7 linked regions of the Homo sapiens genome follow. The protein of the gene in region 5 purifies or fractionates together with the protein of the main gene of each other region. This does not show direct contact. Each region holds a gene or a part of one and is shown on either strand. Other genes may lie near its edges.

Region 1 (4,327 bases), on a different chromosome or scaffold from region 5:
CCTATGAATTGGTATATAATTATACTTGCCATATCTCCTTTTAAACAGAATGAACAACCAGGTACACTACTTAAAGTTCTGCCCATTGGGAGGATTTTCCTTGACTACTGTCCTTCAGAAATGTCCCAGATTGGTGCTATAGTGATGAAGCTGTCCACTTTGGGTAGTGCCTGCATATTGTGCAGAACTATCTGTAAACCAGCTCTGAGTTTTCTCTTCCTCTGTCAATTCATTGTAGGAAACTCCCCTATGAGGTCATGAGTGCAGATTGGGAGAGAGAAGGCAGTATAGCAGGAGTAGGTATCATGGGCATTTGGGCTACTTTTTCATGTAACTTGTGCATTTAGGGCCTACTTAGGCCCAATCTCATATATACCACTTCCATTGGATGATGGAGTCCTTCCGTGCACACCTGACTTTACTGTATACTCAGGTTGCATGTCAACTTGGTGGCCCATGGCTAAGTGTTCAGTGTCTACTAAGGCCCAGCGGCAGGCCAAAAGCTGTTTCTCAAAAGGTGACTAGTTATTCATAGACAATAGCAAGGCTTTGCTCCAAAATCTTTAGGGTTTGTACTGTGAGTTATCTATAAGGGCCTGCCAAAGGCTCCACACAATATCCCATATTGGCTACTGATACCTAAGCACCATTGGAGCTAATAAATTATATGCTCAAACCATATCAGGATAATGCTGACATAACAGATGGTCTAGCCTGGAAAATTCTCTATGTGCTTATAAGAAGAAAGTGCATTGTGTAGCTGTTGGAGGAAATGTTCTGTAAACATCTGTTAAGTCCACATGATCTGTGGTGTAGATTAAGTCCTATGTTTCTTCATTAATTTCCTATCTAGATTATGTGTCCAATGTTGAAACTGGGGTATTAAAGTCTCCACCTATTATTGTATTGGGGTCTAGCTCTCTCTTTAGCCCTAATAATATTTGCTTTACCTGTCTGTATTAGGTGCACATACATTTATAGTTATTATACTCTCTTGCTCAGTTGATCTATCATTATATAATAACCTTCTTCGTGTCTTTATGTTTTTTATTTAAAGTCTATTTTGTCTGATGTAAGTATAGCTACTCCTGCATGTTTTTGGTTTCTGTTTGTGTGCGATATGTTTTTTTTAATCCCTTCACTCTCATTCTATGTGCTTTACAGAGGAAGTGAATTTCTTGTAAGCAGCATATAGTTAGGTCTTGTTTTATATTCCATTCAGCCAGTCTATACCTTTAAATTAGTGAATTTAATCCATTTACATTTAAGGTTGTTACTGATAGATGAACTTACTCCTGTCATTGTTTTGCTTTAAATTGGTGAATTTAATCCATTTACATTTAAGGTTGTTACTGATAGATGAACTTACTCCTGTCATTGTGTTGTTTTTGGATTGTTTTGTATATCCATTTTGTCTCACATGTCCATGTGTAGAGAGTCCACCAACAGGCTTTGTGTGAGCAAGAAGGCTGTTTATTTCACCTGGGTGCAGGTGGGCTGAGTCCGAAAAAGGAGTCAGCAAAGGGTGGTGGGATTATCATTAGTTCTTATAGGTTCTGGGATAGGCGGTGGAGTTAGGAGCAGTGTTTTGTGGGCAGGGGGTGGATCTCACAAAGTACATTCTCAAGGGAGGGGAGAATTACAAAGAACCTTCTTAAGGGTAGGGGAGATTATAAAGAACCTTCTTAAGGGTGGGGGAGATAACAAAGTACATTGATTAATTAGGGTGGGGCAGAAACAAATCACAATGGTGGAATGTCATCAGTTAAGGCTATTTTCACTTCTTTTGTGGATCTTCAGTTGCTTCAGGCCATCTGGATGTATATGTGCATGTCACAGGGGATATGATGGCTTAGCTTGAGCTCAGAGGCCTGACACATTGTTCCTTTATTTTACTCTTATTGTTTATCCTTGAAATTTGGTGGTTTTCTATAGTAATAACATTTGATTCCTTTCTCATTCTCATTTGTATATCTGCTCTACCAATGAGTTTTGTACTTTGTGCATTTTCATGGTGGTAGATACTGTCCTTTCACTTTCACATGTAGGACCCCATTAAGCATTTCTTGTAGGGTTGGTCCAGTGGTAATAGATTACCTCAGTTTTTGTTTGTATGGGAAAGGCTTTATTTCTTCCTCATTTCTGAAGGATAGTGTTGCTGTGTATAGTATTCTTGGCCAAAAAATTTTTTTTTCCAGTACTTTGAATATATCATCCCATTCTCTCCTGACCTGCAAGGTTTCTGCTAATAAAACATGGTGTTAGTCTGATGGAGATTCCTTTATATGTGACTTGAGACTTTTATCTTGCTGTTTTTAGAATTCTTTCTTTGTCTTTGACTTTTGACAATTTGACTACAATATGTTTCAGAGAAGATGTTTTTGGATTGAATCTATTTGAGAATCTTGAATTTCCTGTGTCTGAATGTCTACATCTCTCACAATACTTTGGAAGTTTTCAGCTATTATTTATTACATAGATTTTCTGTGACTTTTCCCATCTTGTATCTTTCTGGAACTCTCAAAATTCAAGTATTTGTTTACTTTATGGTGTCCCATATGTCATATAGGCTTTCTTTATTCTTAAAAAAGTTTTTTTTATCCAGACTGAATTATTTTAAAAGACCTGCCTTCAAGTTCAGAAATTCTTTCTTCTGCTTGATCTAGTCTATTTTTGAAGCTCTTGGTTATATTTTTTTATTTTGTTCATGGAATTATTCAGGTCCAGGATTTCCATTTGGTTCCTTTTTTTTATAATATCTATCTCTTTATTGAATTTCTCATTCAGATCATGAATTGTTTTTTCTGATTTCTTTGTATTGTCAATCTGTGTTCTCTTTTATATTGTTGATGTTCCTTAAGATCATTATTTTGAATTCCTCTTCAAGCATTCCAATATTTTCTTTTCTTTGGGATCTGTTACTAGAGAATTATTGAGTTCCTTTGGAGATACTATGTTCCCTTGCTTTTTAATGTTTCTTGTGTTTTTGCACTATGTGCATCTGGTGTAACAGTTGCTTCTTTCAATTTTATGCATTGGCTTTCACAGGGAAAGACTTTTTTCTGTACACATATCTCTAGTGTTGATTGGGTAGGGTGCTTTGGCTTTGATTCTGGGTAGGTGCAGTAGTGTAGTCTTCATATGATTTCTTTGGCTGTAATCAATGTCAGTGATGTCTGCAAGTTCCTCAGTGGTTTAGCCTGTGGTTGTTAGTGAAGGCTGTGGTAAGATTTCCTGGGGATAGAGATACCAAGTGGGCTCACCCTTGGGCCCTGGGTGATGCACATGAGCACCAGTATTGGTGACTATGGGCTATGTGGGTCAGTACTCAGTCCTCTGAGTGGCATATACAAACACTGATAGTGGCAGGTGGAGGACCCGAGTAGGCCAGTATTTGGGCTCCCAGGTGGTGTGTGTTGGCCACAGCAACAGGTTTGGTGGGCCAGTCTTTGGGCCCCTGGATGATATATGTAGCATTGGCAGTGCCAGTAGCAGTGGTGGGCCAGCCCTTAGACCCCCAAGTGGCATGCATGGGCGCTGGTGGTGGCAGTAGTGGGCTGAGCTGGCTGGAACCTAGGCCCCTGGGCAGTGTGTATAGGTGTCAATGGCAGCAGTGATAGGCAGGATAAAGTAAATTATTTTACTACTACTTGTTATTTTCAATATTTGGAGTAGTTTCTAGGGTAAACTTTCCTCATACAGAGTTTACATTAGCTTCAGATGGACACATAAGTATGATAAAAAGGAAAAGAACCTAAAATGCTCATTTACATGTAATAAAAACACTACAAATTGATACGATTCTTTGTAGACGGCAGATCATTTTCCAATCATCATTTTGCATATTTTCCCACTTATTTTAAGGACTATGTTATTCTTACTTAATGAAAATATATTTTACAAGAGAAGTTATTGCCAGATGATGCAAATGTATGTGTGTATGAGGAAATTATGGGCTGAACATGGTGGCTCATGTCTGTAATCCTAACACTTTGTGAGGCCAAAGCCAGAGGATTGCTTGAGGCCAGGAGTTTGAGACCCACCTGGGCAACATAGAGAGACCCCATCTCTACAAAAGATTTTAAAAAATTAGTTGGGCATGGTGGTGTGTGCCTGTAGTTCTAGATAATCTGGAGGTCGAGGCAGGAGATGACTTGAGCCCAGAAGGTTGAGGATGTAGTGAGCTGTGGTCCCACCACTGCACAACAACCTGGGCAACAGAGAGAGACCTTGTCTCTAAAACAGAAAAAAAAGAAAAGAAATTATAGGCATATTTTAACAATTTATGTTAAATGTGCTATTTATGTATGATGGAGCCACAGATGGA
Region 2 (4,327 bases), on a different chromosome or scaffold from region 5:
ATGTATATATGTATAGTATTAGAATTTTGAGTTCTCCATGCTTGTTATTTTGCTGAAAAGAAGTACCCAGAACACCTGCGTGTTTTACTCAAAAAAGATAATGGGTGTTTATGTTACTTGCATTGTGGTGTTTTCCTTTGCTGAGCATGAAATCCAGTGGTTATCACAATTTCATGACTTACAAGCTTGAAAATCAAGAGTCCTGGAGCAGTTCCATAATACTCCTGTCTGCCCTGACCTTTTTGTTTACTGGAGCTGTTGTCCTCTCCCTCTGCAGCATGGGAATCATTGTGCTGGAGCTGTACTGGAAGCATGCTCCAAAGACCTGTAAGAACTTTGCTGAGTTGGCTCGTCGAGGTTACTACAATGGCACAAAATTCCACAGAATTATCAAAGACTTCATGATCCAAGGAGGTGACCCAACAGGGACAGGTACAGTTAAGCCAACATTAGTTTATGTTTTCTTTTTTTTTTCTCCTTTTCGTCTTTTTTTCTAAAGCCAGCATTAGTTTCTGAAGTCTCTGTCGTAAATAGGTGATAAGGCAGCCAGAGCTCTCTTTTCCACTTACTAAGGTCTGTGTTGGTTGATTCTGGTGACAACGCCTGCCTTCCTCAAACACACATGTGTGGAATTGACCAGAAACCAACCTTTACTCCTAGGCTTGGTAGAGTTTTTCATAACTTACATGTACTGCTCACTAAGAACAAATAATATTTGTCTGAATTATAGTGATGCAAGTAGTCTGATCAATAAGAAGGAAAGACTTTATAATATTTTGAGAATAATAAAATCCTGGGTTCTTTTATCGATTCATTCATTTAACAAATACTGAGTACCTGTTTTGTGTCAGATACTTTTTTAAGCTCTAGGGAGATACCTATAAACAAAGAGACAGAATTATTGCTCTCAATAAAGCAGGAAAAGGGTGTGGGGATGGAATTTTAGTAGAAAAGTCAGGGAACTCCTCTCTGACATTATTGGAGAAGAGATCTGAATGAAGTAAGAAAGTGAACCTTGCAACTGTGGGGAGAACATTTTGGATGGAGGGAAGAGCAAACACAGAGGCCCTGAGGCAGGAACCTGTGCTGGAAATCATAAGATATGATACCTTATAGGGCATGGTAGAGACTGGGTTTTATTCTGAGTAAGATGTGATGTGAGTCATTGGAGAGTTTTGAGCAAAGGAAAGACATGATCTGATCTATGCTTTAAAAGGATCACTCTAGGCTGGGCACGGTGGCTCACGCCTGTAATCCCAGCACTTTGGGAGCCCGAGGCAGTTGGATCATTTGAGGTCAGGAGTTCAAGACCAGCCTGACCAACATGGTGAAACGCTCTGTCTACTAAAATACAAAAATTAGCCGGGCGGGTTGGTGGGCACCTGTAATCTCAGGTTCTTAGTCGGGAGGCTGAGGCAGAAGAATTGCTTGAACCCAGGAGATGGAGGTTGCAGTGAGCCAAGATCGCACCACTGCAGTCCAGCCTGGGTAACAGATTGAGACTCCCTCTCAAATAAATAAATAAATAAAAGGATCACTCTAGCTGCTGTTTAGAGAATAGATGTAGGGGCAAGATGTAAACACTATGTAAATAGTTGTTGTACTGTATTGTTTGGGGAGTAATGACAAGAAAAATAGTTCTATACATGTTCAGTACAGATGCTTCCCCCCAAGATGTTTTCAGTCGCGGTTAGTTGAACCCATGAATGTAGAACCCACATGTAGGGAGGGCCGACTATGCTCATGAGTAAGTAGTTGGATAGGAATATGGGGTTCAGGGAAAGACCTGGTATGGAGGTATTAATTTGGGAGTTACTGGCATTTAGATGGGGTTTATTAGTGAACTGGTGGAACCCTTACTCATTTCAAGGGCCCTTGCTTCTCAGTCTGCTTCTTCTCTGCTAATTTCTGCTCGTTTGCCTTTAAACAAGTTTGGTTTTCTCTATAGCAGAGTCTTTTCTCAGTCTTGTTCTTTTTTGTCATTCTTAATCGTCTCATGATTTATCATCTATGGTCAGAAGCATTCAGGTTTTTGGGTTTTTTTTTTTTTAATGTATATGGATGCATTTCAAAATACAGAATATATAAGAAAGCAGAGAAAAGGGGAAAAATCATTCATAAGCATAGCTCCTAAAGATTTCTAACCATCATTAACTAATCCCTAAATATCCCATCTTTCAGAAAGGAACAGTGTTAACTTTTGGTGCCCATCATGTCTGGTTTAAGGGATGACAGGATAAATGGAAGTAGTTTCAAAAAAATAGGATATATAAGCTATTGTTTTTAAAACAGAACATATTACATTTAATTTCATATATATAGAACAGAATATTTGACTTCCTACAGTGAAAGATGAGGCAATTAGTACTTAAATTTCTACCCATTCTTATTTTTCCCCGACCTTAATTTTTGTTGTTAGTTTTATTATTATCTGTTCTGCACTCATCATTCCTTCAGCTACAGTGTGGGTCCTACGTTTCAGTGTATTTAGTGTTCACAACTTGCTTCGCTTTTACCTTCGCAAGTGCTGGAGGGCAGGATTTCTTGTCTAGTGGTTTTTTAGTGTTTTTTTTTCAGAATGCTCAAGAATCACAATTGTCCAGTGGTTTTTTGTTACAAGAGCTGGAATGTGTTGTATTTTTAAGTTCATTCATGTTTCAGAATTTCTGCCTGTTACTTTTATACTTGAAAAGAGATAGCATGTTGGCATGCTCAGCCCCCTCACTGTGTGATGCACTGTGCCACTTTGGGACTTCACAGAGTCCCCACCAGCAAGAAGGCTCTCACCAAATGTGGCCACTTGACCTTGGACTTCTCAGCCTCCACAACTGTAAGAGATAAATTACTTTTTTAAAATAAATTTTTTAGGCCAGGCATGGTGGCTCACACCTGTAAGCCTAGCACTTTGGAGGCTGAGGCGGGAGGGTCACTTGAGTTCAGGAGTTCAAGACCAGCCTGGGCGACATAGTGAGACCCCGTCTCTACAAAAAATAAAAAATTAGCTGGGCATGGTCGCATATGCCTGTAATCCCAGCTACTGGGAGGCTGAGGTAGGAGGATCACTTGAACCTGGGAGGTTGAGACTGCAGTGAGCCATGATTGTGCCCACTGCACTCCAGCCTGAGCGACACAGTGAGACACTATCTCTAAATAAATAAATTAAAATAAAATAAAAATATTTAAAAGGAAGAAAAAAAGACCATAACTGGGTATAGCATTCTGAGATCTTTTTAGACATTTCTGATCAATTGCCTTCTGGTTTGGTTTTTTGTTGTTGTTTGTTTTTGTTGTTGTTGTTGTTGTTTTTGGAGACAGGATCTTGCTCTGTCACCTAGGCCCAGGCTCGAGTACAGTGATACAATCATGGCTCACTGCAATCTCCATCCCCTGGGCTCAAGCATTTCTCCTACCTCAGCCTCCCGAGTAGCTGAGACTACAGGCATTCACCAGCATGCCTCACTAATTTTTAAATTTTTTATAGAGTTGAGGTCTCACTGTTGCTGAGGCCGGTCTCAAACTCCTGGGCCTAAGTGATCCTCCTGCCTCGGCCTTCCAAAATGTTGGGATTACAGGCATGAGCCATCATGCCTGGCTGCCTTCTCATTTTTGAATATGGTTTTGGAGAATACTGAGGCCAGATTTACTCCTTCCTTTACATCAGGGTTAATTTTTTGATTTCTATTTCTGAATATTTTCTCTGTTATACTTACTGGATTTTCTATTTCAGGAAATATAGTTATTTGTTTCATCACCTTTGCCTTCCATATCTATCATATTTCTTTTGATTGTGTGATAGGATTTTTTTTTCTTTTTTCCCTGCATTCACTAAAATAATCTCAGACCTTTACTCTGTGCCTTACTCAATTTTCAGTCATTTTTATTCTGTTCTTTACTGCTCTAATTTATCTACTAGCTCATTACTGATGCCATTTGAATCTAAATTTGTTTCCTTCACTCTGCAATCTTTTCATCTTATTCTGTGGTGTATTATCTTGTCTTTGAGCTTTTGTTATATTATATTTTTACTTCTCTTGAATCATCCATAGCTTGAGATAGCCATGGAGAAGCCACTTTCTCCCAGGCTGAGTTCCTGGGTTTTCTTTTCCTTTCTCCCCTCCTCCTTTCTGTCCTTCTGTTGGTTGTGGTATGTTTGCCTAGTTTCCATGCCATTTGTTTTCATCTTATCCATGCTTGATGTCAACACCTACATTATCCCCACCTTTTACTTGCTCAGATACAGTGTAAGTGGAGTCTCCTTGTCATTCTCCCCACTTATGTGGAACTGGTTGTCTTCCCCACTTCAAATGTTAGGTTGCTTTCTCTCTAT
Region 3 (3,491 bases), on a different chromosome or scaffold from region 5:
GTGCCACTCCACTCTAGCCTGGGCAACAGAGCAAGAACCCTGTCTCAAAAAAAAAATAGAAAAAAAAAGTAACCCAGTCAGGTGGCACATGCCTGTAGTCCCAGTTACTCAGGAGGCTGATGCAGAAGAATCGCTTAAACCTGGGAGGTGGAAGTTGCAGGAAGCCAAGATCGTGCCACTGCACTCCTGCCTGGGACACAGAGCAAGACACTGTCTCAAAAAATAAAATAAAATAAAACAATAAACTATAATTTACTGCATTTACTGAGTCATATAATGCTGAAAGTTTGTTTTGTTTTGTTTTGTTTCTTGAGACAGCCTTGCTCTGTCGCCCAGGCTGGAGTGCAGTGTCGTGATCTCAGCTCACTGCAACCTCTGTCTTCCAGGTTCAAGCAATTCTCTTGCCTCAGCCTCCCAAGTAACTGGGACTACAGGCACACGCCACCACACCTGGCTTATTTTTTGTATTTTTAGTAGAGACGGGGTTTTACCGTGCTAGCCAGGATGGTCTCGATCTCCTGACCTCATGATCCACCCACCTCAGCCTCCCAAAGTGCTGAGATTACAGGCATGAGCCTCCACACCCGGCCTAGCTGAAAGATTTTTAAAAACCTAAATATCCACTCATAAAGAACTGGTTGAATAAATTATGCTAGATCAATACAACTAAAGTAATGTGGAAAGATCTCCGAGGTAAATTGTTCCATGGTAATAAAACCAAGATGCAGAACAACATGCACAGTATGCTACCATGTGTGCTTGTGTGTTTAAAAATATGTAACATAAGCATTGACTGTACCTAGAAGGATATACAATAAATTAGGAACAGTGGTTACCTCTGAGGAGGGAAACTTGGGAGAGGGAGAGAGGGGTGAGAGATATCTTTACACGGTATATGCTTTTTTAATAGCTTTTGAGTTTTTTTGTTGTTGTTGTTGCCATATCCATGTATTACCTATTTAGAAGATTATTTTAAAAGACACAAGAATATAATGAAATATTGCATTGTGACCAGCAAAGTGGGAAGAGTGAATCCAAAAAAAGATAAATGTTTTTCCAGAAGCCAGTGTCTCCAACTGTTATATAATTTACTAATATTGTTTTTTTGAGAAAAAGGAAAAAGAACCCTTTGAAGTCAAATATTGCTTTAAAAGAAAATATGTTTTAATGCTTACTAGCTCATCCTTATCCTTGACGTGATATCGAATGAAGAACACCAGAAATTATTTCTGTGGACATTGGCTGAACAATTAACACATTTTAGCACTGAAGAAGGAACTTCAACCTAGTCTTTTTACGCACAAAAGGAGACAACATTTTCACCATATATCAGAAAGACTCATTCTATTAAAGGAAAGCCAAGAAACACACTTGTAAGCGAGTAGGGAGGATTTTTCTGCAACATAGGCTATTTAAGGAGGTATTAGTAAAAGATGATTAATTGAATTTAATTAAAGCTTTAAATCTAACATCAGTGACTTAGGCCTTTCTTGGCTTGGTTCACAGGCTCTTAAAAACATGGGTGAAATTCTGAAAGCTGCAGGCTGTGACTTCACTAACGGTGAGCAATTTGATATTATTTCACATTTCTTTTTGATATTTCTTTGGTCTTTTTGAAAAATATATGGCATCCAGTAAGATGCCGTGCCATATCTTTGTTGCTATTTAAAAGTTGTTTTAAATAGCAACTGTTCTACTTCACTTCTTTGGTCCCATTTCAGTCCCATTTTAATCAAGACAGTCTCAGATTCATACACTCTTTTTCTAAGTAATGTTTTGGGTCAGACCAAATAACTAAACCTAATGACAATGTTTATATCTTCTAGTGGTGAAAACAACTGTTCTTCTGGCTGACATAAATGACTTCAATACTGTCAATGAAATCTACAAACAGTGTAAGTAATTTGGCTTTATTCCTATTTTCCATTTTTAAAAAGAAAGAAATCTGGTCACATTAATGAATGTGCATTATGAATTAAGAGTGGTAGGAGATGCTAAAGAAATGGTCATAGATCTTAAAAGAATTAATAATCTGATTGGAAATATGTTGTATACCCCCCATGAAAAAGTTCTAAGACATTTCTATTGCATTCCCTAAAACAATATACTGAAATCCTACATATCCATTTTTCAAAAGCTTAATTTCATTAAATCCTTCTCAGGCTTTTTAAACTCTCCTAACAAGTTTTTTATGCATAGATTTTATTTACTGTGGCTGTATGGTGCAGCCACCATCTTTATCCTGGCTCTCTCAGACTCATTAGTTAGTTACTTAATATTTCTATGCCTTGGTTTTCTCATATGCAAAATGGAGATAATATACTCCTAACTTATAGGGTTGTTGGAATGATTAAATGAGTCAGTACAACATGTAAAGCACTTAGATGCTGGTGTGTTATAAGCACTGAGTAAATGTTAGCTATTATTAACATTGATGTTATAGTAGGGAAAATTGGTGTCCCCAACACCTAATGGGATGAGGCAAAGGTATAACTTGGAAAAAGCATCGTTACTTATTCTCTCCTGAAGAAATTATTAGAAAAGACCAAAGTTGGCAGAGGAAGTACTTGCCAAAATTTCTGGAGATGGGCACTTGTTCCCTATTTAGATAAATAGTTTATAAATATCACTTTAAAAACAAAACTCCATTCACATCAAACAAGATCAAAATGTTAGGGTATGTATTTCTTTTTTTTTTTTTTTTTTTTTTTTGCCAGAAAGCTAAGAGATTTTAAAAAGTATTAACTATCATAGGAATCATATGGCAAAATATTTTATCAAACAAATCTGATAGTGAGCCTCTTTTTTAAAATGTTGCTTAAGGCCAGGAGCAGTGGCTCACACCTATAATCCCAGCACTTTGAGAGGCTGAGGTGGGTGGATCACTTGACATTAGGAGTTTGAGACCAGTCTGGCCAACATGGTGAAGCCCCGACTCTACTAAAAATACAAAAATGAGCCAGGCATGGTGGTGCACACCTGTAATCCCAGCTACTCGGGAGGCTGAGGCAGGAGAATCTCTTGAACATGGGAGACAGAGGTTGCAGTAAGCTGAGATCGCATCACTTCACTCCAGCCTTGGGCGATAGAGCAAGACTCTGTTTCAAAAAAATAAAAATAAATGTTGCTTATATCTAAGAACTGACTAGTATATGAAATATTTGCCAGATTATTAATTGTAGATATTGAATAACAATAGAATATCTGAAAACTAAAATAAAAATTTTCACTTGATCTTTATTTTTTCAACTCTTCTCTATTAAAAAAATGAAATTCTTTTAAATTCAGATTTCAAGAGTAATTTTCCTGCTAGAGCTGCTTACCAAGTTGCTGCTTTACCCAAAGTAAGTACACTTTAAATGACTAATGTACACAGTTTTCAGTTTCTACATTGTTTTCCTTCTATAAGTAAACTAAGCACTGTGAAAGGAAACTTAAAAGAAGTAGCCTGGGCAGGGTGGCTTACCCCTGTAATCCCAGTGCTTTGAGAG
Region 4 (3,913 bases), on a different chromosome or scaffold from region 5:
CGGCAAGGGGCGGGGGTGCTGTTGGGAAGGGGGTCCCTTGTCTTGAATCAGGCAGGCAGAGTAGCCCTTTTTACCAGGACTCCAGAAGACAGCTCAAAAGTGCTGATAAGTGCCGAGTCCAGGACAGGGCTGGGGACAGCAGCACTGTGGCCGCCTCCAAGGTGGGAGGAAGACAGCCCCAGGCCTTGGCCGGCCTCTCACACTGTACCCAAGGAAGGCGACACCACGCTGTGGCGCTGACACCCTGATTGAGTTCACCGGCCCTTGGAGGCAAGGACCCATCTCACAGATTAGGGATTGATGGGGGCAGGAGACGGGCAGCACAGCCAACACAGCTGCAGGGCCCAGCAGCCCTGCCCACACTGGGGGTGCTCCAGCCATAGGGCCCCACCCCACTCACCTTTGCCGTTCTCCTCGCCGGGCCTCGGGTTCCTCGTGGTATCTAGCAGAGAGACCTGTCACCCATCGGGGGCTGCTCGGAGCCCAATGCCCCACCCAGCGTTTCCCTTGCAGTCCCGACAGCACTTGAGCCCCAGGATGCAGGCAGCCAGTGAAGCACACCACTGGGAAGGCGCAGGAGCCTACAAGGCGAGGGTTCTCCCAGAAAGAAACACTGTGGCCCAGTTATCAGTACTCAACAGACCCAGGGAAGGGAGACACAGGCACGCAGGACAGCAGGAGTGTGATAACCTCAGGTTCTGTGTGGGGGGGAGTGTGCAAGAGTTCGGACAGTCTGCAGGGTGGGTGTGCCTGTTGGGTTTGGGCTCCTGGCCTGCTCACGGTGCTAGGACTACTCAGCAGCCTTGAGGTCTACGCACCCCTCCACGAGAGCCCTGGACTCACGGGACACGCTGAAGCCAAAGATGCCGCTGTGCTCCTGGAGCAGCCTCTTCAGCAGGGTGCTCTTCCCAGCTCCCGAAGGCCCGCTCAGCACCACAGGCCTGGGGCCCGACATGCCTGGGGGTGAGAAGAGAGGCTGTGGATAGCAGTGCGGCCTCTAGTCCCCATCTGCTGAGCTGCCTCTGCCTTCCTGAATTCATGGCAGGAAAGGGCTGACCCAGGGATGGAGACATTGGCCTGAGAGTCTCCTGAGAGCCTGGGTGTTCTTCCCCCTGAGCTCTGCCACGTTGGAAGGGCCGGCATGCACAGGGCGGCCCTCAGACCAGGCTCTGGGCACACGGGAGACGAATGGAAGGCCGGCTTTACTGGGTTCTCAGCAGGGGAGCCCCCCAACTGAAACCCACTGACCCTGTCAGCCTCCCCAGGGGTCCCTAGCAAGCAATGCTGTCTACTCTGATGACACCCTACCTGGGAGCTGCCGTCCCCACCTGGTGGAGTCACCTCCAAGCCCTCTGGGAGCCTGCTCTGAGACCCCCACCCCACCCAGGAGTCCAGCCATTTGCTCCCATGCATGGTGCTGAGTGCTGGGCTGCTAGGTCTGGAATGGAAGTGTCCCTGTCCCCGCCTCTGTCCTCTGGTACCTTGCCCTGCAGATATGGTCTTGTAAAGATCTACTGAATCTACACCTATTCCAGGAACTTCTCATAGGACTTGGGACTCCTATCTGTGATGCTGGTAATGCCAGAGGGGGTTGGAGGCCTCCCTCCCAGCCCCCAAGGGAAAGGCAAACAGGATCCTAGCTTGGACACGTGGCAGGTGAGGGCCCGGGAGCTGGCCTTTGCCTGGTGGGAATCCTCCCCAAGAACAGGGCCTACCTGTTTGCTGAGGTGCAGCCTCTGTAGTCAGCCTGGGGTGGGTCTGTCTGCTGGACTGAGAGCTGGGGGTGCTGAGTCCCTAATCCCCACTACGCCTGCTTCTGGCCCCACCCTTCTAAGCCACGAATAAATCCCCAGGGGGCCTGGCCCTGGGCCCTTGCAGGGAAGCAGCCCCATCCACCTGCTCTGCGGCTGTGCAGGAAGGAAAAGACAGCTCCAGCTCTTGCCCCAAGACCTGCACCTGCCCTGCCCTCCCAGTCCACATGAGCTGCACACACAGGGCCAGGGCAGCGTCTTCGAGTTGGGATGGGGAGCAGAGCTGAGGAGTGGGGCCGTGCACTGCAGCTGTGTTCAGGGGCTGGGCTAGAGGGAAGCGGATGGACCCCTGGCCACACGCACACCTTGGACACAACTCAGGCGAGGCGTGAATGGCCTCCTCCTGTTTAGGGCACAGCCGCCTGTGGGCAGACGAGCAGACAGTGGGAAGGACCTGAGGATGCCCTCCTAATCCCCAATTTAGGCCACCGAGGTAATCTCACAAATGCACCACGGCTGCAACTCCATCATGCACAGCGACACCCACCACACACATGCCACTCCCAGGCACAAAGGTATGCAGGATGTGTGCACAAACCTACCACAAACACACACACATGCATGCACACACAAACACACACACAAATGCACGCACACCAAGCAAATGCACACACACCACACATGTGTACCTGCAAAGGTACACATGCACACGCATACATGTCATTGATCACAAACACACCGGACCCCCAGTTAAAAAGACTCAAGAGGAAGGGAACTGCAGGACACCCACCCAGAAGTCCATGTGCTCTCCATAAGGGATAGACTCCTCCCTCCTTACTGCCTCTTCTGGGCTTTTTGTCACAAGCACACATCGTTTTCATCTCACCATGCACCCCATGCCCTCCTGGCTCTCCCACCCGCAGAATTTGCCCCTGCGCTTAGCTCGGGCCTCCCCACTAACCTGGCTCCTGCTGCTCACCCAGCCCTGCCACCTCCTCTACGTGCCAGCCAACCATCAGCACGCACTGCAGTGGCCAGGGTTCTTTATCCATTCAGCTTCTCCCAGCCAGCGAGCCCTGCAACCTCCACAGCCTGGTTCCCATAATGCACTAGCTAGGAGCCCCCCAGAGTCTCCCACAATCAATGAGCCATGCCACTTGTGTGAATTTCTGGCCCCTGCTTCTCGCCAGGGTGGAAGGGGTACAGTTCTCAGGACACATCCAGCAATTGCTACACACCTACTTGAAGCACTGAGATCACAGAAATTATGACTTGATGGTATTATGGTGACTTTTCTAATACGAAGGAGAAAAAGTAAAGCTAAATCATGTGCTTCGAAGGACCCGATATGGGAGAGCTACTCAAATGGTCCTGTGGGCTGGACCCCATGTGAGCTTCTGTCCTGTTGCTCCACTGAGCTGGCCCTTCTTAAGGTCACTCTGCCCTGCCAACCCACAACCAGCATGGCACTGGTGGGCCTGACAGGGCTGCCCCAAGGCCGGTCCTGCCCTGTTCCCCCCAGCCCCTGGCTCCAAGCTCTTCGGGTCTGAACCTAGATGCTACGTGACTATAAACCCACACAGAAGGAAACACAGTGGTGACCTCCACTGACCAGGCCTCCCCTCCTCCCTCCTGAGGGAGCGCTAAGCTAGTGAAGTGAAGCTGGGCCCACAGGCAGAAGACACCAGTTCGCCCAGCTGCTGCCAGGCAGGGGTCCAGGCTCCAGCCTTGCCAAGGGCGTCGTCTGCACAGCTGTGCCTACACTCGCCCAGCACAGGGCACAAGGCACACGTGGCACATCAATCGCCAAAAACTCTGGGAGTTTTTGCGTCCTCAGAAGGGGGAGAGCCACACCTTCTGAGGATCCCACCAAACTACCACAAGACCCTGGTCTCCATCCCCTCCTCGGCCCCAAACCCCATCCCCGATGCCCAGGAATTGGGGAGCTCGTGCCTCACTTCCAACTCCCAGGAATGGGGGGTGCTGGAGTCCCACCTCTGGCTCCTGGGTTGGGGATCTCCCCCTTTCCTCGCAAGCAGCAAGTGGCAGGTGTGTCTCTTCACCACAGGGCCCTGACAACGATCAGACACCAACAGATGCAACCCAGCACAGAGCAGACAGCAGACGCTGGTGGGCCCCAACCCCGCCTGTTTCCTCCACAG
Region 5 (3,563 bases):
GTGTTTATACTTTGGCTGAACAGTCACGTGGATATCATAAAGGTGGCGATGGTATGTCACTATCCGGTGAAACTGCTTGCCTTCCTTCATGATTTCCTCAGTCTTTTTTTCAGTAGACATAAGATTTTCCAAAAAGTCTGAATCTTCTAAATATAGCTCATCACCTGAAAAAGGAAAAAATCTGATTTTATTTTTAAATACAAAATTATTTTTCACCATGGCAGAAAGTATAAAATTTTAATTCCATCGAGTATTATTTTATAAATCACTCCAATATACTAATGAAATACAAATCAGTATTTTTATCTATTTCATATGTTTGGAACTGAGATAGTTGTTAAATCAGTATTTATTTTGATCTATTTAATATGTTTGGAACTGAGATAGTTGTTAACTAATCTAATTCTATGAGCTTACCTCAATTTCTTTATTGTGTTTTTTTATCTGTTTTTTGAGATGGAGTCTCACTCTGTTGCCCAGGCTAGAGTGCAGTGGCGCGATCTCGGCTCATTGCAACCTCCACCTCTTGGGCTCAAGCAATTCTCATGCCTCAGCCTCCCGAGTAACTGGGATCACAGGTGTCTGCCACCACGCCTGGTTAATTTTTGTATTGTTAGTAGAGACAGGTTTCGCCATGTTTACCAGGCTGGTCTCAAACTCCTGACCTCAAATGATTCACCCACCTCGGCCTCCCAAAGTGCTGGGATTACAGGCGTGAACTACTGCGCCTGTCCTCTTTCTTGTGTTTTTAATATCCCCTTACAACACCCCAGCCAAGAGTTTTCTTTGGGCCCATAAACATCTGTGACTGGTATGTTTCCACTGTGAACTGTAACTATTATACCAGTTCATGACTCTCTTTATTCTATTCAATACTGATATTAAGATTGGCCTTGATATTCATATACTTTTGATGTTTCAAAGTGGGCTGTTCTTATCATCTTCAGGTTAATTTAGAGAAATTCCATCAAAACTGCTAAATTTTCCCACTGTAGGTTGAGTAATAAATCTTTTTTTTTTTTGAGATGGAGTTTCGCTCTTGTTGCCCAGGCTGGAGTGCAATGGCGCAATCTCAGCTCACCACAACCTCTGCCTCCTGGGTTCAAGTGATTCTCCTGCCTCAGCCTCCCAAGTAGCTGGGATTATAGGCATGCGCCCCCATGCCCAGCTAATTTTGTATTATTAGTAGAGACGGGATTTCTCCATGTTGGTCAGGCCGGTCTCGAACTCTCGCCCTTAGGTGATCCACCCGCCTCAGCCTCCCAAAGTGCTGAGATTACACGTGTGAGCCACCGCGCCCAGCCTTTTGTTTTGTTTTGTTTTTGACAGAGAGTGTCGCTCTGTCGCCCAGGTTAGAGTGCAGTGGCATGATCTTGGCTCACTGCAACCTCTACCTCCTGGGTTCAAGTGATTCTCCTGCCTCAGCCTCCTGAGCAGCTGGGATTACAGGTGTGTGCCACCATGCCTGGCTAATTTGTTTTTTTTTTTTTTTTTTGTATTTTCAGTTGAGATAGAGTTAACATTTTACTTTATTTTCTTCATAATTTCATAATTCATAATTTCAATTGAAATTATGTCCAACTGAAAAAAAAAAACAAAGTTGGCTGGGCACAGTGGCTCATGCCTATAATCCCAGAATTTGGGGAGGCTGAGGCGGGCGGATCACCTGAGGTCAGGAGTTCAAGACCAGCCTGGCCAACATGGTGAAACCCTGTCTCTACTAATAATACAAAAAAATTAGCCAGGCGTGGTGGCACATGCCTGTAATTCCAGCTACTCGGGAGGCTGAGGCAGAAGTATCGCTTGAACCCAGGAGGCAAAGGTTGCAGTGAGCCCAGATTGCACTCCAGCCTGGGTGACAAGAGCAAAACTCTGTCTCAAAAAAAAAGCTCCCTAATTCAAATTAGATGACAACTTACGAGTTCTCGTAATTCAAACTTAAAATGCAAAAAAGTGAGAAATCAGCCAGGCATGGTGGCTCATGACTGTAATCCCAGCACTTTGGGAGGCCAAGGCGGGTGGATCACAAGGTCAAGAGTTCAAGACCAGCCTGGCCAAGATGGTGAAACCCCGTATCTACTAAAAAAAAAATACAAAGATTAGCCGGGCACAGTGGTGGGCACCTGTAATCCCAGCTTCTTGGGAGGCTGAGGCAGAGAATTGCTTGAACCTGGGAGGTGGAGGTTGCAGTGAGCCAAGATTGTGCCACTGCACTCCAGCCTGGGTGACAGAGGGAAACTGTCTCAGAAAAAAAAAAAAAAAGTGAGAAATTATATGAGAAAGACCTTTGTCAATGTCTAGGAAATATATTAATATAAATGTATGTGTATGTATATGACATTATGCAGAATTTCTGGTTATAATAATATGGATATTTTATAGGCTTTGATCTTACTTAGCTAATACCCTGTAGATTACAAAACACAGACTGTAATTCCTGTCTCTACGTTGGGCAATACAGCCATGCAGCCCAGGGCACTGAATGTGAATACTAACAAAAGCACCGATGCTTCACTGGTTTACCTGGTAAAAGATGGACCATCCCATCAGCAGTTAACAAGATGATCGGCAGCCACCTTTCCAGTCCTTCTAATGCACGACCCAAACAAAATTTGTGCAAGTCAGAGAGAGAGGCAAAGTTTGCAAGTCTTCTCACTTCGTAGAACTGTGGGGGTGGCAACCAAATTTCTTTTGATAAGAAACTTTCAGTTGCCTCTGATGGAGATGACCACTGTGAAAGACAAAGGCAGGGTTTCTTAAGGTTTATGCCATAGACAATGTGAGACTTGAGACAGTCAGACCAGTACCTAAGGTAGAACTGAATGTGTAAAATGAATTCATTAATGCGCCCTGTGAGATCCCTCAAAGACAACATGAAAAGATTCAGTGAAGAAAGCTGGGTTGATCCTCTTAAGAGGTTGCTTATTAGGACACTGATCCTCAGAACTAGTAAATAAACCAGGGCAGACCCCTGAGGCTTGACCTGGGAGAGCTGTTCAGCATAAGAGGTGGGAGATGCAGAGAGGGTAAGGTGGTTCCGGTCCCTGCTGAAAGAAGAAAGACTCTGAAGGGTAAACTCATCACAGTAGATGGAGAATTTGGTGCCTGTTCATTCCTCTGGGAAATGGGTACTTGGCTAGATCCTGAGGATATAATGATGGACACCACAAAGCTCTCCTAGGCCCTATGGGGACTTCAGCAACCAAAATGCTTTGTGATGTGGTGATGTGTGCCACATGGTACAACGGCGGTGAAGCATCAGGAGCAACAGCAGCTTTCAGGAAGTCACCTGGCATGACTCAGCCTACAGTCAAGAGAGTAATAACTTGGTAGGGTTTCAGCCAGGCAGTATTTGCCCGGAAAACTTCAGTGGCTTCATTCTACAACCTCCTCTCCTTCCTGAGCCTTCTTTCCATAGACATTTAGATAAAAAGAGCTGATTCAATGGATATGGAATAACCTCAAAGGTTGTTCTTTTTTTTTTTTTTTGAGACGGAGTCTCGCTCTGTCACCCAGGCTGGAGTGCAGTGGCCCGATCTCGGCTCACTGCAAGCTCCACCTCC
Region 6 (4,327 bases), about 28 Mb from region 5:
ATGGGGTCAAACCTTCCCTGTGTGGCCTTTGGTGTCTGGCGTCTCTCACTGAACGTGACGTCCTCAAGGCTCATCCATGCTGAGGCCCGTGTCAGCCTCATTTCTTTTCCTGGCTGAGTCCTATTCCAGAGGGCTCCCTGCAGGAACATGTGGAGCTCAGATCCCCCCGGCTGAAGGAGGCAGGCTGAGGCAGGGAGCCCCTCCAGGCACCAACCAGGATGGAGTCGGGGGTTGGGGGTGGGGCGCAGATTGAAGCCTGTGCAGAATGAGGATGGGGTGGGTGGAGAGGGCACAGATTGGAGGCTGTGTAGAATGAGGATGGGGTGGGTGGGGAGGGTAGATTGGAGGCTTTGTAGAATGAGGATGGGGTGGGTGGGGAGAGCACAGATTGGAGACTGTGTAGAATGAGGACAGGGTGGGTGGGGAGGGTATACTGGAGGCTGTAGAATGAGGATGAGGTGGGGAGGGTAGATTGGAGGCTGTAGAATGAGGATGGGGTGGGTGGGGAGGGTAGATTGGAGGCTGTGTAGAATGAGGGTGGGGTGGGTGGGGAGGATAGATTGGAGGCTGTGTAGAATGAGGATGGGGTGGGTGGAGAGTGCACAGGTTGGAGGCTGTAGAATGAGGATGGGGTGGGGAGGGTAGATTGGAGGCTGTGTAGAATGAGGATGGGGTGGGTGGAGAGGGCACAGATTGGAGGCTGTGTAGAATGAGGATGGGGTAGGTGGGGAGAGTAGATTGGATGCTGTAGAATGAGGATGGGGTGGATGGGAGCGTAGATTGGAGGCTGTGTAGAATGAGGATGGGATGGGTGGAGAGGGCACAGATTGGAGGCTGTAGAATGAGGATGGGGTGGGTGGGGAGGGTAGATTGGAGGCTGTGTAGAATGAGGACAGGACGGGTGGGGAGGGTAGATTGGAGGCTGTGTAGAATGAGGACAGGACGGGTGGGGAGGGTAGATTGGAGGCTGTAGAATGAGGATGAGGTGGGTGGGGAATGTAGATCGGAGGCTGTAGAATGAGGATGGAGTGGGGTGGGGAGAGTAGATTGGAGGCTGTAGAATGAGGACGGAGTGGGAGGGGAAGGCACAGACTGGAGGCTGTGTAAAATGAGGACAGGGAGGAGGGGAGGGCACAGATTGGAGGCTGTGGAATCAGCTAGCTGGGGTAGGAGGAGGAGGAAGGTGCTGGGCAGAGTCCTGGTGGAACTGGCGGAGCTGGTGCAGGTCTGGGCTGGGGACGAGCTAGGCAGGTGGCAGGTGTGGGAGTCTGTGGGGTAGTGGCTGTGGAGGTTTGGATGATGCTATCTCCCGGGGAATGTGTCCCACCAGAAGGGGCCCCAGCTGTTTCCCCTCAGGCAGGTCTTTACCAGCATGTTCTCTGAAGGACCAGCCTGATGGCTCATAGCCTTCTTGGGGTGCAGACATCTGGGAATCAGACAAAAGCTGTGCACTCTCTTCCACCTGCCCGAACACACATGCATCTGGGTCCACAGCCCCTCCCCAAGTCTCCCCAGACACCGCCCGATTCTGCCCCTGCCGCCATCCTCTGTCAGGCTCATGGTTTATGGGCTTATCCCGGCTCCACTCGCCCCACTCATTCTCGTAACCCCACTGCCTAGATCCCAGCTCGATCTGGGCAAGGTCATGAAGGGAAGGAAGCCGTCAGGCCCCCCGGTGGGGAGGGGGTCGGGGGCTTCAGGAATCTTGTCCCTTCTTCCCTGATCCTTGGCCCAGAATGTCTCAGCCCAAACAGTGGGTATTTCTTGAGCCTTTATTTTGTGCAGACACTTTGGAGGGAGAAGTCCAAGCTATAGCTCCACCACTGCGGTCAGGTTAAAGCACGTTGACAAATGGGAGGCAGAGATCAGGGAGTGGCGACGTTTAACTGAAGGACAGGGTGTGATTTGCTGCCTCGTGTGGGTGTTGTCCCGCCGTGCCCTGCGGGGCGCTTTACAAACAGCAGGTGTTTCTGGGGAGATTCTCACCCACTCCATGGAACTGGCTGCATCACAGGCAGGCCAAGGCCCCAGGAGGCATCAGGAGGGTCATTGAGAGGAGATAGGCCCCATCAGCCCAGAGAGACCCTGCAGAGGCCGCCCTGTAGTCTTGGGGAAGCCCACGGTCGCCATCGTCTGTCTGCAGGCCACTGCCCTGCATGGACCCCTGAGTGCCAGCTCCCCAGAGGGCATCTGGGCAGGTGCAGGTCTGGAGCAGTTGGGATGGTGGCTGGGCTCACCTTGAGCCTGAATCCTCCTGTCCAACCCCCACAAAAGCTCCCCAGGGGCATGCTCAGCCCCGGAGACCTGCCACCCCAGGCCTCCTCATCTCAGACAGTGACTGGACCCTCCCTGACCAGGGCTGTTGGCAGTGCTAGGGCTTAAAGAAGAATCTAGGGCTCCCTGGATACCCCCGCCCCACCCATGCACATAGAACCCCAGCCAGGGCTTCCACAGAAATGGCCCCCCTGCTGCCCCTCCATCCCCATCACACTCTCTTCACACCAGAGATGCCATCATCCCCTGCTGTCACCTTCCGACACCTTCTGCCACTCCAGTTCCTTAGAAGCCTCCGTTAGCAGCCTTCTAGAGACCTGGGCAGATGATCCTCCCCACTTCTTAAGTTAACTCCTGTACTTCCTAGTCAATGCCCTCTGAGAAGCCTTTACTGGCCTCTCATTGCCCAGCCCCAGCCCCCGTCGTAGTACCTGGATTGCTGTCAGCAACCAAGAAGCCATGTGCAGTGAATGGACATGGGGTCCTGTCCCAGAGCAGCTCCCAGCCCACAGGGGAGAGAGGCGTGTCTATGAATGAGCTGGAAGAACATTCTGGCACAAAGGGGCCAGGCACAGTGGCTCACACCTCTAATCACAGCCCTCTGGGAGGCTGAGGCGAGTGGATCACTTGAGGTCAGGGGTTCAGGCCAGGCTGGCCAACATGGTGAAACCATGTTTTTACTAAAAATACCAAAATTAGTCAGATGTGGTCGCGGGTGCCTGTACTCCCAGCTACAAGGGAGGCTAAGGCAGGAGAATCACTTAAACCCAGGAGGCAGAGGCTGCAGTGAGTGAGATTGTGCCATTGCCATCCAGCCTGGGCAACAGAGTGAGACTCGTCTCCAAAAAAAAAAAAAAAAAAAAATTCTGGCACAAAAGAAAGAGGGTCTGCTGTTGAGAGGGCCCCATCCATCCTTCCCAGTCAGCAGGTGCTCGTGCTCGGGAATGGCGTCCATGTTGAGAAGCAGGCACGAGACCTGCTGACCCCAGCCCGAGTCCCTGGCGGGGCTCCTTCCAGGGCACACAGACCCAGACCCAGCAGGCCTGGCCTGACTCCCTCGCCCCCTCTTCCTCTGCAGGCCCCAGGGGAAGTCCTATCTGTACTTCACACAGTTCAAGGCAGAGGTGCGGGGCGCTGAGATTGAGTACGCCATGGCCTACGTGAGTATCTTGGAGTGGGGCAGGCTCCGGGTGTGGCTTCTGTGCACTGGGGCAGCTGTGAGATGTCCTGCCACAAGAGGGCTCCATGGGGACAGGGAGGAGAGGGGACAGCGAATCCTGCAGAGGTAGGGTGTGTAACTTGCAGGAACCTGGCACACAGACGCCCCCAGGCCAGGGGCACGGGGGTTTGGTAACCTGTTGCTGCTGGCTTCTCTTGTATATGCCAGAAAAGACTTCTCCAGGCCAGGCGCGGCGGTTCACGCCAGTAATCCCAGCAATTTGGGAGGCTGAGGCAGGAGGATTGCTGGAGGCCAGGAATTTGATTCCAGCCTAGGCAACATAGCAAGACCCTATATCTACCAAAAGTAAAAAAAAAATAGCCAGGCGTGTTGGCATGCACCCATAGTCCCACCTACTCAGGAGGCCGCAGCAGGAGGATCACTTGAGTCCAGGACTTTGAAGCTGCAGTGAGCTATGATTGCACTGCTGCATTCCAGCCTGGACAGTAGAGTGAGGTCCTGGCTCAAAAACAAAAAAGTCTCCTCTCCATCTCTAGTAAAAGTAGAAAGCTTTAGTCTGTGCTTCTCTGGAAAGCAAACTCAATCGTTTTCCTAATGATGAGCATTGAACTGGCCCTGGTAAAGTTTCCACTCATTCTTTTTCAGTCTAAAGCCGCATTTGAAAGGGAAAGTGATGTCCCTCTGAAAACTGAGGAATTTGAAGTGACCAAAACAGCAGGTACGGAAAGATGGGGATGGGGTAGAGGTGACGCCACCCCCATCCAAGGGTGGGCAATCGGGGCAGTTTGGAGAGGGGGGTCAGCCATAGGGGTCCTGGAGACTGTAGACCAGGCATCCACAAACTGATTCTATAAAGGCCACCTCGTCAATATC
Region 7 (4,327 bases), on a different chromosome or scaffold from region 5:
AAATTTAACAATAGATAAGTAAATGCACTGAATTTTAAGTTACCTTGTGGCTAGAAAAAGCATTCATTCTTAAAATAATTTTGTTGCTCAATATAAAGTTGGGTATTTTTGGTACATGTAAAAACATTGCTAAGGCTTCTACATCAAATTCAAGCTTAGAATTCTGGATTTTAAGGATTACATTTCTATAAAGATTATTAGTTTGACAAACTAACACTAGAAAATAATTACATAATTACTGCTTTGACATCTCTAAGTTTACTACCTTTACCACTGTTTAAAACCTTTGGCTGTTCCCAAATCTACCACATGTGAAATTCTTCGTGGTTTTTGGGTCTGGGAGAAGAAAAGTTATCTTCCTGCTACATGTCTTTGATTGCCATTCTGGTGGGTAAGGATTGGAATTCCAACTGAGATTCTAATTCCCCTGGGAGCTTTTGGTTCCAGCTTGTGGTCCACTGGCCCTGTGCTACTGACCTTCCTAGCGCCTGTCTCTCCAACTTAAAGTGATATTCATGGGAGAACTCTGATGGGTATTATTTTTCCTCAAAGGAAACTAAGGCATCTGTAAAAATATTTTAAATGCTGGTAATAGAAGAAAATTTGGAAGCATACTCACATATTTTTCCTTCTTTTTCTAGTTTTTTCAAATGAAGTAAGAGATTATGTTTAGCCATTTCATGTAAATTCTCAGGAGTATTCTAAAAGAAAAATGAAGGTGAAAAAAATTCCTTTTTTTTTAAAAAAAAGAACACAGTTAATTTTTTGAAAGCTTTGAAGAAAAGCAAAATGTAGCAAAAGTTTATCTTAAACACATTTTTTTTTTTTTTTGAGACAGAGTCTCACTCTGTCGCCAGGCTGGAATGCAGTGGTGCATCTCGGCTCACTGCAACCTCCGCCTCCCAGGTTCAAGCAATTCTCCTGCCTCAGCCTCCCGAGTAGCTGGGACTACAGGCGAGCACCACCACGCCCAGCTAATTTTTGTACTTTTAGTAGAGACGGGGTTTCACCATGTTGGTCAGAATGGTCTCGATCTCTTGACCTTGTGATCCACCTGCCTCGGCCTCCCAAAGTGCTGGGATTACAGACGTGAGCCACTGCGCCTGGCCTATCTTAAACACATTTTTAACTTGTTTGACATTTTTAACAATTTCACTTTGTATACATCTTGTTTTATATTCTATATATACTCCTATAGATAGAATAGGTTGTAAGCTCCATAAAGACAGTAGCAGTATCTTTTTTTTTGAGACAGAGTTTCACTCTTGTCACCTAGGCTGGAGTGCAATGGCGCGATCTCGGCTCACTGCAACCTCCACCTCCCAGGTTCAAACTATTCTCGTGCCTCAGCCTCCCGAGTAGCTAGGATTACAGGCGTGTGCCACCATGCCTCGCTAATTTTTGTATTTTTAGTAGAGATGGGGTTTCACCATGTTGGCCAGACTGGTCTCGAACTCCTGACCTCGGGTGATCCGCCCGCCTCGGCCTCCCAAAGTGCTGGGATTACAGGCGTGAGCCACCATGCCCGGCCTGGCAGCAGTATCTGTTTTGTTCATTACTGAATATTCAGTGTTTAGCATAATAATACATAGCAGAAACACATTAATATTTTATGAATGAATAAATGTAAAATTATTCTTAGAAAGTTTTCATGATGCTACAGACAGTTGGCCCTGTAATTTATTTATTAGGTTACAGGGTAATATCTTTGTATATTTTAATTTAAATTTAATTTTTTTAAAAAAGTTTTTGGGCCGGGCGCAGTGACTCATGCCTGTAATCCCAGCACTTTGGGAGGCTGAGGCGGGTGGATCACCTGAGGTCGGGAGTTCGAGACCAGTCTGACCAACATTGAGAAACACCATCTCTACTAAAAATACAAAATTAGCTGGGTATGGTGGCACATGCCTGTAATCCCAGCTACTCGGGAGGCTGAGGCAGGAGAATCGCGTGAACCCAGGAGGCAGAGGTTGTGGTGAGCCAAGATGGCGCCACTGCACTCCAGCCTGGGCAACAAGAGCAAAACTCCATCTCAAAAAAAAAAGTTTTTGAGATACAGTCTTGCACTGTCACCTAGGCTGGTGTGCAACGGTGCGATGTAGGCTCACTGCAGCCTTGACTTCCCAGGCTCATGTGATCCTCCCATCTCAACCACCCGAGCAGCTGGGATCACAGGCATGTTCCATGACACCTGGCTCATTTAAAAAATTTCTTGTAGAGATGAGGTCTCACTATGTTGCCCAAGCTTGTCTCGGACTCCTGGGCTGAAGCAAACCTCCCACTTAGCCTCCCAAAATACTGGGATTACAGGGGTGAGCCACCACGCCTGGCCACAAAAGCTTACATTTTTAACCTCTAAGCTATGCTGCCTACACAGCAGACATCTAATAAACATTTGCTGAAAAACTGAATTATACTGACTGCTATATAGTGCTGTCAATACAGTGATATTCTCAGAGGCCAGTGAGGTGTAAGGCTCTTTCCCTACATACTATTTTACTCATGTTCTTTGATTTTTTTTTTCTTTTTCTCCATTGTTTGGCATTGCTACTACTTCTCACTGCTTTGCTACTACTTCTCACTGTTAACATTCCAATATTTGTGTCTAGCAGGTCACCCCTCCTCTCTTGGTGCAGGCTGGGACACAAGATAATCAAGATGGCTAGAATAATGCAAAAATTATTACAAAATGTAATCATCAGGCTGTTGGTAGTTTCTCCTACATAGTTAGGCAGTTTCTCCTACATAGTTAAGTATATAAAGTTCAATGATGGCTCGAAATGGCTATCTTTGTTCTCTAAGGCCAGTTTTTGTTTAATTTTAGCACTGTAGAAAGTTTAGGCTGCTGGTCTCAAATCTAGAAAAGTGGCGTAACTTCTGATCTGGGATATAAGTTTATCATTTCTATAGTCTACTAAATAGATAATTCTAATAAATTTGTGGCTACATACAAATAAGAAAACTGAAAATTACCTTGTAAATAATTTTTACAAGCTCCATTACTGTAAATGATTTCTCAAAGTTCTCACGAAATAATGTAAGAATTTGCTGCTCTCGAATATTTCTGTGAGAAATGTATTGTTGAATTTTAGCTTCAGCATTATGAATTACTGGGCCATGTCCTGAATTAAAATAATTATAAGAGTTACTTCAGTCAGATAAAAAAATACTAAGTACAACAGAAGCTAACTCACTCTATTTAAAAATAATTCATATGATATATTGAAAAAGCATACTAAATGTCAAATATGAACTATTTGGAAAGCTATACAGGTGAAAGAGATTTAAAAATTATATACAATACCCCCCAATTAGAAAATTATAGCAAATACAATCTATAGAAAATATTGTGTACATTAAAAATATGGAATAGAAATTTAACAATAAAACACAGCAATAAAAATAGCAACTACAATAATAACAATAGGTAATGTTTATGGAGTGCTCACTATGTGCTAGGCACTGCCCTAAATGCTTAACATACATTATTCTTACAAGAATCCCATGAAGTAGGTACAATTATTACACATTTCTTATGGTAGAAACTGAGACATACGGAGGGTAAATAATCCGTCCACAGTTACATAGCTAAGAAGGGGTGGAGTTAGGATTCTGACAGGATCTCTTAACCACTCTGTGCTCTTGACCATTAGGCTAAGCTTATAAAATACTGCAAAAGGACAATGTAAAAAGCAGTTTCATGTACATGACCAAGCTCTATTAAAAATTCACAAGACCCACAGTAAAACTTTAAGAATCCTATGTATAGGCTTCTGTATGTCAGAAATTTTGACAACCCAGATTAAGTTATACTATAATTTACTTCCCCTTTAAGACAGTACACATTAATATTATATATTATATAAGTCTGCAAGAATGATGTTCTTAAATATTTGAGAACAAAATATCCAGAAGCAGGCTAACCTATTACGGGATCTGGTTAGACACAGACCTATCATTTATTTGCTGTGTGGCTAATAAATGAGGAAGTATCTGAATCTCTCTAAGCTGTTTCTTCTGCTGTGTGGTGAGGAAACCACTACCTACTTTACATGGGTTTTGGTGAGGATGACAACTGTAAAGGCCCCTGCACAAAACCTGATGGCTAGAAGACTTTAATATATGGTAGCTATGGCTACAGAGCATAATTTACATATAAACAACTGCTGTGCTAGTAAGCCAGTTCACTGGATTCACTAAAGCACTCTAGAATCTTTACTAGGTAGCCTCTCATTAGCTTAGCTTGAATGTGAATTCACTCAACGTCTGCCCTCTTCGCTTTAAAAATAGCTGTCTTTAGCAAAAACAAAGCAAAACAAACAAACAA

The links.
Region 1: the proteins of NUDT19 (region 5) and GIMAP8 fractionate together in Homo sapiens (co-fractionation; one large-scale study listed by BioGRID). This does not show direct contact.
Region 2: the proteins of NUDT19 (region 5) and PPIL1 fractionate together in Homo sapiens (co-fractionation; one large-scale study listed by BioGRID). This does not show direct contact.
Region 3: the proteins of NUDT19 (region 5) and RIDA fractionate together in Homo sapiens (co-fractionation; one large-scale study listed by BioGRID). This does not show direct contact.
Region 4: the proteins of NUDT19 (region 5) and GUK1 fractionate together in Homo sapiens (co-fractionation; one large-scale study listed by BioGRID). This does not show direct contact.
Region 6: the proteins of NUDT19 (region 5) and MYDGF fractionate together in Homo sapiens (co-fractionation; one large-scale study listed by BioGRID). This does not show direct contact.
Region 7: the proteins of NUDT19 (region 5) and LACTB2 fractionate together in Homo sapiens (co-fractionation; one large-scale study listed by BioGRID). This does not show direct contact.

Annotation. Positions count from the first base shown.
Region 1 is NC_000007.14:150,460,446-150,464,772, forward strand, and holds part of GIMAP8 (GTPase IMAP family member 8), read left to right. Parts: intron 1-4,327.
Region 2 is NC_000006.12:36,867,823-36,872,149, reverse strand, and holds part of PPIL1 (peptidyl-prolyl cis-trans isomerase-like 1), read left to right. Parts: intron 1-182; exon of another isoform or gene 183-277; coding exon 278-432; intron 433-4,327. UniProt on the Homo sapiens protein: Involved in pre-mRNA splicing as component of the spliceosome. PPIases accelerate the folding of proteins. Catalyzes the cis-trans isomerization of proline imidic peptide bonds in oligopeptides. Catalyzes prolyl peptide bond isomerization in CDC40/PRP17.
Region 3 is NC_000008.11:98,104,342-98,107,832, reverse strand, and holds part of RIDA (2-iminobutanoate/2-iminopropanoate deaminase), read left to right. Parts: intron 1-1,506; coding exon 1,507-1,561; intron 1,562-1,826; coding exon 1,827-1,895; intron 1,896-3,288; coding exon 3,289-3,344; intron 3,345-3,491. UniProt on the Homo sapiens protein: Catalyzes the hydrolytic deamination of enamine/imine intermediates that form during the course of normal metabolism. May facilitate the release of ammonia from these potentially toxic reactive metabolites, reducing their impact on cellular components.
Region 4 is NC_000001.11:228,142,555-228,146,467, reverse strand, and holds part of GUK1 (guanylate kinase), read right to left. Parts: intron 1,773-3,913; exon of another isoform or gene 1,716-1,772; intron 958-1,715; coding exon 844-957; intron 443-843; coding exon 401-442; intron 1-400. UniProt on the Homo sapiens protein: Catalyzes the phosphorylation of GMP to GDP. Essential enzyme for recycling GMP and indirectly, cyclic GMP (cGMP). Involved in the cGMP metabolism in photoreceptors. It may also have a role in the survival and growth progression of some tumors.
Region 5 is NC_000019.10:32,708,353-32,711,915, reverse strand, and holds part of NUDT19 (acyl-coenzyme A diphosphatase NUDT19 precursor), read right to left. Parts: intron 2,732-3,563; coding exon 2,524-2,731; intron 165-2,523; coding exon 1-164. UniProt on the Homo sapiens protein: Fatty acyl-coenzyme A (CoA) diphosphatase that hydrolyzes fatty acyl-CoA to yield acyl-4'-phosphopantetheine and adenosine 3',5'-bisphosphate.
Region 6 is NC_000019.10:4,659,776-4,664,102, reverse strand, and holds part of MYDGF (myeloid-derived growth factor precursor), read left to right. Parts: intron 1-2,024; coding exon of another isoform or gene 2,025-2,382; exon of another isoform or gene 2,383-2,397; intron 2,398-3,352; coding exon 3,353-3,434; intron 3,435-4,099; coding exon 4,100-4,172; intron 4,173-4,327. UniProt on the Homo sapiens protein: Bone marrow-derived monocyte and paracrine-acting protein that promotes cardiac myocyte survival and adaptive angiogenesis for cardiac protection and/or repair after myocardial infarction (MI).
Region 7 is NC_000008.11:70,637,929-70,642,255, forward strand, and holds part of LACTB2 (endoribonuclease LACTB2), read right to left. Parts: intron 3,123-4,327; coding exon 2,974-3,122; intron 702-2,973; coding exon 620-701; intron 1-619.